Regions from separate parts of the Homo sapiens genome. Here region 1 is linked to region 2. The links come from fine-mapping of genetic effects on gene expression. A gene starts in region 2. The other region holds a variant in brackets. All regions are shown on one strand. Distances are from middle to middle.

Region 1 (4,401 bases), 100 kb after region 2:
CACTTCTGACTGTGGGCAGTGGCTTTTGGAGTTATCACTAATTGTGAAACTCCAGAAAGGACAGGGCTAATGTCTTTGGATAATGAAGGTCACCTTCTAATGACACATGAGCCTCTCTGGCCAGTCCCGTGTCTGGTCTGGCCCCCAGCTTACTGACTTGTAAGGATGGTTTGCACTTCGGTTTCGTCTTTCAGTTCCGGGGTTGTGCACCTGTTGCTTGCTCAGGAAGTTTTGTGTGATAATTTGTGGCCCAACTGCTGACTTCCGTGCCCATCACCAATGGCTATGGCCAGCACACTCCTGGTCCAAAGTGGTAGGAAACTTGGTCCAAAGTGGTAGGGGAAGCTTGAGGATTTAGTTTATCTTTCTTTCTAGAGAAGGCTACTTGCATATTAGGGAGTACCGACACTCTGGTGTGAATAAACAGACACCAAACTGAACTCTTTAGAGCACTGCTGGGGCTATTTACTCTACTTAAATAATTTTGTAAAACTAGGCTTGTTAAAATGGACACTAAAATAAAAACCCCTTGAGTTTCTTTGATAAGGAGAGTATCCTGACCAAAGCACCCTTTTCAAGTCTAACCACCTGGTAGATGCAGGAACATCCTTGTAGATTCAGCATCTTTTCCACTGTGTGTGGTTACAGCCATGGAGAAAAAGTTACATCCCTGTACTTCCACTGATTTTTTTCTTTAATAATACTTTCCGTGTTTTAGGATGTTAGATATCAGAGATTTCACAAGCTCTGACTGTAATAGGAGAATGCATAATGTGAATTATGCACTGCAGAGGTGAGTACACAAGTTGGCTAATGATAGGTTACATGGCTTGCAATTTGGGAGCCAGAAGCAAGTCAGCCCAGGGGATCCCTGTGGTGTGGAGCAGCTCTGTGTCTTGACTATGGTCATGGGTGTACAAATATAGATGTGATGAAGCTGTATAGAATTAATACGCATACACACACACACACAGAGTACAAGTAAACCTGGGGAAATCTGCATAAGACAGGTGGATTGTCTCAATATTAGCATCCTTGTTGTAATATTGTACTATGGTTTTGAAAGAAGCTAACATTGGGGTAAAATGAATAAAAAGTACATGGGCTCTGTCCCTATTATTTGTTACAACTGCATGTGAATCCATGTTTATTTCCATAAAAATTTTAATTTATGAAAGTTAGATTTACCTCCTAAATATAATTTTAAAATCTCTAGATGTTACCAAAACAGTGGGCGAAATATTATCTGATAAAGCACAAAAGTGCAATCGCTCTCTTAATTACTTTAACTGTGGATAATGTTTTCCAGACTGTTCTACGGATGGGCATGAAAAATCAATTAACATGCACTCCTGTTAGGCTGAAAGATGGTATCCCTATCCCATGGAAGTCTTGGGGCAGATAAGTGAAGACATTTGAACATTTAGAACTATGCTGCTGAAACAATTTCAAATTTTTTCTGATTATAAACATGAAATCAACCATAAAGAAGAAAAAATCTATTATCCCAAGATTCAGAGATGACCATGGTTAACACTTTATTATAGTTTCATCAGTCTTTTTCTCTTTTCAAATATATATTTACTTATAATAAGTGTTTCCCCGTTTTCTAGGAAACCCTCATAAACGTTTCCACGGCTTTCTGAAGCACATTCAAAGTGTGGTTGCACAAGTCTGGTACTCTCACAGTGCACATCTGTGTGGCTGTCAGGCTGGTGTCCATGCTGATGGGCTGGCATGTGTTCCAACTGGACATGCCATGCTTTATGAAATACAGCTAGGAATTATTTTGAATATCACCCCTGGATTGTACTATTTGGATTAACCATCTCTTTGATGTTGGGTAGGAAAGTTGTTTCGAAGTTTTCATTATGATAAACCA[T/C]GCTGTAATGGAAATATTTTTGCCTAATGCCTTTTCTGAATTTTAGGTTATTTATTTAGGATAGATTCCCAGGAGTAGAATTAATGGATAAAAATGTATGACTGTTTTTCAGGCTTTTAATATGCATTGCCATATTTCTTTCCAAAAAGGGTGCAGTCTTCAGACATACAGACTGTGCAGGGGTTTCCAACAGTAGGCAAGCTCTCTCTCCTCTTTGTCTCAACTTTTCTGACGTTATAGCTAAAATTTGATACATACCTCGTTGCTTTAATGTGAAATGAGGTCAGGTATTTTCTTAAATGTTTGTTAATGACATTTGTGTTTTTCTTGCTTATGAATTGCTTACGTATATACTTTGTGTATTCATTGGGACAGGGGCCAAATCACGCCACACTAATGTTACTTGTCATGAATATTTGGATATTAATGGCTTTCTTTATTGAGAACTTTAGTACTTTGTAATACTTAAAAGTGTGAGAGACTGGGGACATTCAATTCTTTTTTGTAAACTTAACTGTCATCTTCTTGCTATTTCCATGTTGCATTTAGAATACAGATACCCCTTGACTTACAGTGAGGTTAAAATCTGATAAACCCATCATAAGTGGAAAACACTGTGAGTCAAAAATGCATTTAATACATCTAATCTAACCACCATCTCATAATCTAGCTTACTTTAAACATGCTCAGAACACTTACAATAGCCTACAGTTGGGCAAAATCATCTCACACAAAGCCTGCTTTGCTTGACTATCTCATGTGACGTATTGAATACTGTGCATTATGTCAAAGTTGCGATGGTTTCGTGCCATTGTGAAGTTGAAAAATTGTAAATCAAACCATCATGAGTCAAAGGCTGTCTGTGCAGTGAGGAGAGTGAGGTTTGATGTGAAGCCCAAACTACGGGCAGTGAAGGAGTAAGCGTGTATGTGGTGTTATCCAAGTCCAGGCTGCCATCTCAGTGCCCCAATCCTGGCTGATGCAAGGACACACTTTAAGAGAATAAAATCCACTTTCCGAATCCCCAACCCACCTGTCTGTACCCTGCTTACTCCTTTCTGGGCCCTCATCCTCTCCCCTCTCTCCTCTCCACAAAGAGCACATTGAGAATATGCACTCTCAGACCCCATTGCCTATAAGATGTGGAGTTTTAAAGCATTAGTCTCTGTTGGAGATTTTGCATGTCAATAGATTCAAGTCCCTACAACACACTGGAGAAACAGAATGTGAACCTTTAGGCGGCAGCTGAGAAATGAAGCAGGATTTGGAGGTTGCTCAATTGTTCTTGAGTCAACTCTCCAAGACCTAATGATTGGAACCCAGTTGGTAATCACATCATGAGAATGAAAGCGTGATTCTATACAATGACACTTTACATATTAATATGTTCATGCCACTGATGATCACATCAAGTGCCAGAAAAAAAAATTTGTCACCAGATTTCTCTATTCTCAAGTCATGTCTCTAATTCTTGAACCCCAAAAAAGTAAACAAATATTTATTTTTCCGTATGAATAAGGACATTTGGGAAATTGTGGTCTTAGCTCTGTATTTGTAAACTGTTATGACTCACTCGTTATTGCATTAGGCCTCAGCATTAAAAGCTGCCCAGATATTTACGCTTAGTACATCCCCAAAGTACAATACATGAACTTCTTTCACCAGTTGGAAGCAATAGCAGAAAATATGTAGGATTTAATGATGACCTTTCTCTATACCTTGATTTTGGCCATGGAGTAAATAGATGGAAATGACAGTGTCTTTTGCCACTTCATTTCTTCCTAAATGTCCTGCAAGTCTCCCTGGAGGTGCTGCTTTATCTGCAGAACTTTTCCAGGCCCAACTGGGTTATGGCCCCTCCAGGTATAACACACAATACTGTGTCTGGGCGGCTGTCTGCAGGGAACAGCATGTGGTAGATTTGGGGGAACTCATCTGTACCTCTATTTGCTGTCTCCCCAATGTCTCGGGGACCATGTCCTGCTCACTGCTCTGTCCCTGGAGCTATAAGCTCTTCTGGTATATAATGGGCACAAAATGAATATTTTTATCAGTGAGTGAATTTAGTGGTAGTGTGTGCCTGCAAAGACCGAGCCTGAGTCAGAAGCCTGCTCGGCAGGGCTGGGGGTGCAGCCCTGGAGGGTGGGCCTCCCCAGCCAGCAGACCCCACCTCACTCTCTGCATCATTGTCCTCACCAAGAGCACTGTGCTGCTTCCTCTGGGGAAGCCCAGCAGTGGACATTAGATGGCTGCCACCACCCTGTAGAGTTTTACCTAAAAACTTCTGTATCTTGGGTGAGGAGGTATTTTTTATTTTTTGTTTTTTATTGGTTTTTGTCTAGGAGGACAAATCCTAGCATATGTCACAAGAAGCTTGACATGGAAAGGACTCTTAAGTCCATTAGGCTTAATCAACATCCTATATCCATCACAGAGTGTATGTCAGGTGTTTTAATAATTTTTTAAATTGACAATAACTATATTTATGGAGTACAATATGATGTTTTGCTTTATGCATA
Region 2 (4,401 bases):
GAGGTGGGTGGATCACCTGAGGTCGGGAGTTCGAGACCAGCCTGACCAACCTGGAGAAACCCCATCTCTACTAAAAATACACAATTAGCCGTGTATGGTGACACATGCCTGTAATCCCAGCTACTCGGGAGGCTGAAGCAGGAGAATCGCTTGAACCCGGGAGGTGGAGCCTCCTCCCATCTGCCCCCTCCCTTGGGCTTTCTGGAGGGATGGACAAAGTACAGTATTAAGGCTACTGCTTCTCTCTGTGCAAACAGCCCTCTTCCCATTTTAGGAAGGGAGTTGTCTATGCTGGAGAGACCCCCATGAACCAAGGAGCAGCTCAAAGCGAGCTTCCATGTCCTTCCAGGGGTCTGCGGATCTTCTGCTACTCTTTTAGCATCTCTGCTCTCCTCCCCTTCCCAGGCTCTGATAGAACCCTGAGGGCCTCACTTCCCTTGCTCCTGGACTTGCAACTAGGAATACATTTAAAAAGTCTCCTCCAGAGGAGCACAATTCCAGCTAAGCCGTTTGTTGTTGCTGTGAGCCGAGATCACGCCATTGCACTCCAGCCTGGGCAACAAGACTGAAACTCCACCTCAAACAAAACAAAACAAAACAAAACAAAACAAAACAAAACAAAACACTATGGGGCTGCCCTCCAGGGCCATGGATAAGACTTCTTCCCCCTCTCTGCAGCCCTGAGGCTGGTGACCCCTGGTTTAGTGGACTAAACATTACTGCTTTTCCTAAACTCTGCCCCTATCTTGGTAAAATGTCCCTTCATCCTAAGGTCCTTAATGTCAGCTGTTCGCTGCAGCATCCTGACTAATGCACAGCTGAGAGGCAGTCAGAAGCCAGCAACAATGAGGGTGATTTTAAAAGACCATGACGAATGTGTACACAGAATACTCAGTGGCCCCAATCCCATACAGGTGCTGAAGGTGGGCTACGAACTGCACACTAAGGTTCTGTAGGGAAATGAATTAGGATTGGTGGTAGATTTTCCACTGAATCTTCTTGTAATACAGTTCTCTAAGTGCTTCCCTGTACCCACAGTTCTAAATGATCTTCAGTGGAGCGTATTTGTCTGTGTGTGTGCGTGGGTGCCTTAATACTTCTGGAAGCATCCTCTTAACCCACTGTTTTCATTTATACACATATCACCTGTTTCATGGCTAGGACTTGGTAGGATTAGACATACATGGGCCAAAGGTAACTTCAGTCAGACCCTGTTTAATTATAAAATGGCAGAGTAAAATAGATCTAATATGTCAAGGGACACACCTTAAAGCTTATCCAGCCTGAAGAACATTAATGGTAAGTAGAAACAAGCGAACAAAGAAAACCTTTTGAAGTGGCAACAGAGGGGAGGGGTGGGTGCTGGCTCCTACTGAGTTGAGGACAGAGCCATTCCTCTCACTGATGTGCTTCTTCCCTGGAGGTGAGTGTGGGGTGCATGTGGGTGTGCGTGGGGTGGATCCCATGCTGGTGCCAGGACTGCCAAAGTGTGCGTTGGTGGGAAAGAGAAGGAAGGGAGAGCAGGATCCAGTGTCCATTGTGCTGATTTTTTGTGGACACAGAAATGAGAAGGCAGAGAAGATGTCCAAGTCTTCTGTAGGAGAGCTCACCCTCTCCTGGGTAGTTAAGGTCAACCACACTGCATCCGGATCCTGCCAGGAACTTGGAACGCCCAGAGGGCTGGCAGCGACGCAGTGCTGGACATTCCCACCCCACCCGGGCTGCTGCGCTGGGGGCAGCCGGATCCACAGAGATGCAGAAGATGTTGTGGGAAGAGACCATGGGAGAGCCACAGAAGCAGAAGCGCCTCCCTCCCCACTCCCTGCACACCCACCCCCTAAGCTGGGAGCGCCCAACATGCAGCCAGAAAAAAAAAAATCGTTGAAGGCCGGTTCACATCTACTGCCTAGAGAGCAAATCCTCACTGATGTCAATTTCACGTATATGGAAGTGAATATATTCACTTCCTAGGCTGCTGAAACGAAGTGCCACAAACTGCCTGGCTGAAAATAACAGGAATTTGTGTCTCACCATTCTGGAGGCTGGAATTCTACGATCAAGGTGATGTCAAGGCCAGACTGTCTCTGAGGCTCGGGGTAGAAGCTGTCCTGCCTCTTCCCGGTTTCCGGTGGGGCCAGCGGTGCTCGCGGATGCTCCTGCAGGCTTGTACATGCGTCGTCACAACCTCCGCCTTCAGCCACACCCCGTGTTCTTCTTGTGTGTCTCGGTCTTCACGTGGCGTGCCTCTTTTTTATAAGGACAGTGGTTTTATTGGATGCGGGGCCCACCCCATTCCAATGTGACCTCGTTCTAATTAATTACATCTGCAAGGACCTTATTTCCAAATAAGGTGACATTCTGAGGTCCTGGGGGTTAGGACTTCAACATCATTTTTGGAGAAAACCATTCGACCTTTGACAATGCCCAAGTAAAACGGTTTCATTTTTAGCGAGTGGACGTTCGAGTTCTCTATTTGAGGCATTTTTCTCAAGGATTTCTAACAATAGCTCACGTTATAGGTTGCGTTTATTTTTCACCATAATGATTTTTAAAATGTCAAAGCCTTGGCCCAACGACATGGGTGAGTTTGTTTTTATTGTTAGAAAGGATTCTATGCTGCTTTCAAATGTCTGCAGGTTTATTTTTAGCTGGACAGGAAGTGCATCTTACGCTTATGTTGGTTTGTAGGCTGCCCCCTTTTTTGGAGGAATGTTATTGTTAGAAAACCACGTTCAGTTTGGAGATGAGTTTGGATTGAGCACCACGCAAATCTAAGTTATAATTATACTACTCTCCGCTATAGATTTTCCAAAATAATCTTTCTGTTCATCAGAATTTGAAACCTTTCAAATAATGGTTCCGTTTGTTATTCACAATTTCACAGCCCAGCAGCTGCCTTTTATTTGTCTTTAAATGAAAGGTCAAGAGGTTTTGATGTAACCTGGGGTTGAATTGAAGGTAGCATGTCCATGTAGTGAGATGTAAAGTGAAAAATAAAAAAAAAAAAACATAAAAATGCTATGTCGTGACCACAAGATACCAGAATCATTCTTATTTGTTATGACTAAACATCCAGTTATTTCAAAGGGAGGGAAATAGTTCAATCCAGAGCTTACCTAAATTTTTCATTGTTTCAGCAAAGGGGCTTGTGATTTGGGGGAAGTTTAGTTCTTAAGTAGAGGACCTTTCCATCAGACAAGCTGCTTGTATTTGTTGCTGGTGCCACGGATAAGCTAGTATTTCAGAAGAGAGCAAGGTAATCCCATCCTAATGCCGTAATGAGGGTCACAGTGAGGTACGGGAAACGGTGGGACTTTCCACCTAAAAATATCTGCCAGCAGTTATATTGTCAGTTGGCTGTGATCTCCACCTCCAGCAGTGAACCTTCGGGGAGGAGGTTCTTTGACCTTCCTTGGTGTGATTGCCTGGGGAAAGTGATCATTTCATGGAATCGTGTCTGTTTCTCCATCCTCTTCTTTGAGGGACTTCTGAATGAATAAGGTATCACTCTCACACCCCAAACCAACACTTTAACCCTCTGTTGAAATACTATTTAAAGGATGGTTGCATGAGGATGGATTCTATTTTTGCCTGTGACCAAACACAATGAGTCTTAAAAAATAGCCTAGATTTCTTTCTGCTTTGCCTTGAGTGATGATTACAAACACCCCAGCCTTCCACGTTGGTAAGGGCCACTCTCAGGTTCACTAGTATATCTGATGGTGACCACTTACTAAGGTGCCTCCTGTGAGCCGGGCACATATCATGTGTGTGGCACGTCCCATCTCATTTACTCCTTACAACAGCCAGATGAGCTACAACACCCAGATGGTGCTCCCTATATCGCCTTTACAGAGAGGTGACATGGTGGTATGGAGGTAGCCAGGAAAAACCGCGCGGAGGCTCCGACCATCCATCTCTTTGCTTTAGGCCTGGGATCACTTGCAGATGAACCATCTGCCCCCTCCCTTGGGCTTTCTGGAGGGATGGACAAAGTACAGTATTAAGGCTACGCTTCTCTCTGTGCAAACAGCCCTCTTCCCATTTTAGGAAGGAAGCTCTTTATGCTGGAGAGACCCCCATGAACTAAGGAGCAGCTCAAAGCGAGCTTCCATGTCCTTCCAGGGGTCTGTGGATCTTCTGCTACTGCTTTAGCATCTCTGCTCTCCTCCCCTTCCCAGGCTCTGATAGAACCCTGAGGGCCTCACTTCCCTTGCTTCTGGACTTGCAACTAGGAATACATTTAAAAAGTCTCCTCCAGAGGAGCACAATTCCAGCTAAGCCAATCATCCATTCGAACCTTCATGTCTTGGGTTATCGGTTTTCTACTGCAAGGGACGCACCTCGTTCCTTGGAGGGTTACATGGGGTTTGTTGATGGTGTAATCAATTGCCCATGTGA

Direction of the effects. Alleles are on the strand shown, and positions count from the first base shown. SD is a standard deviation of normalised expression in the study named.
As copies of T replace C in region 1, the expression in amygdala of the gene that starts at base 2,302 in region 2 goes down (small effect, 0.38 SD a copy in GTEx).

What was found. PIP is the estimated chance that this variant, and not a neighbour inherited with it, causes the effect.
Region 1: its variant is the best candidate, but not a certain one, in a credible set for the expression of LINC03082 in amygdala (GTEx, PIP 0.81).

Annotation. Positions count from the first base shown.
Region 1 is chr13:110,026,347-110,030,747 of GRCh38, reverse strand. It overlaps a transcript of LINC03082 not described here. Among named protein-coding and RNA genes, the nearest start is that of LINC00396, 25 kb to the left of the region's middle. The variant T/C (reference allele first, on the strand shown) is at 1,883.
Region 2 is chr13:110,127,037-110,131,437 of GRCh38, reverse strand. LINC03082 (long intergenic non-protein coding RNA 3082) reads left to right here and starts at 2,302. Exons shown (of 3, transcript NR_187462.1): 1 at 2,302-2,581. RefSeq lists an enhancer at 3,724-4,401.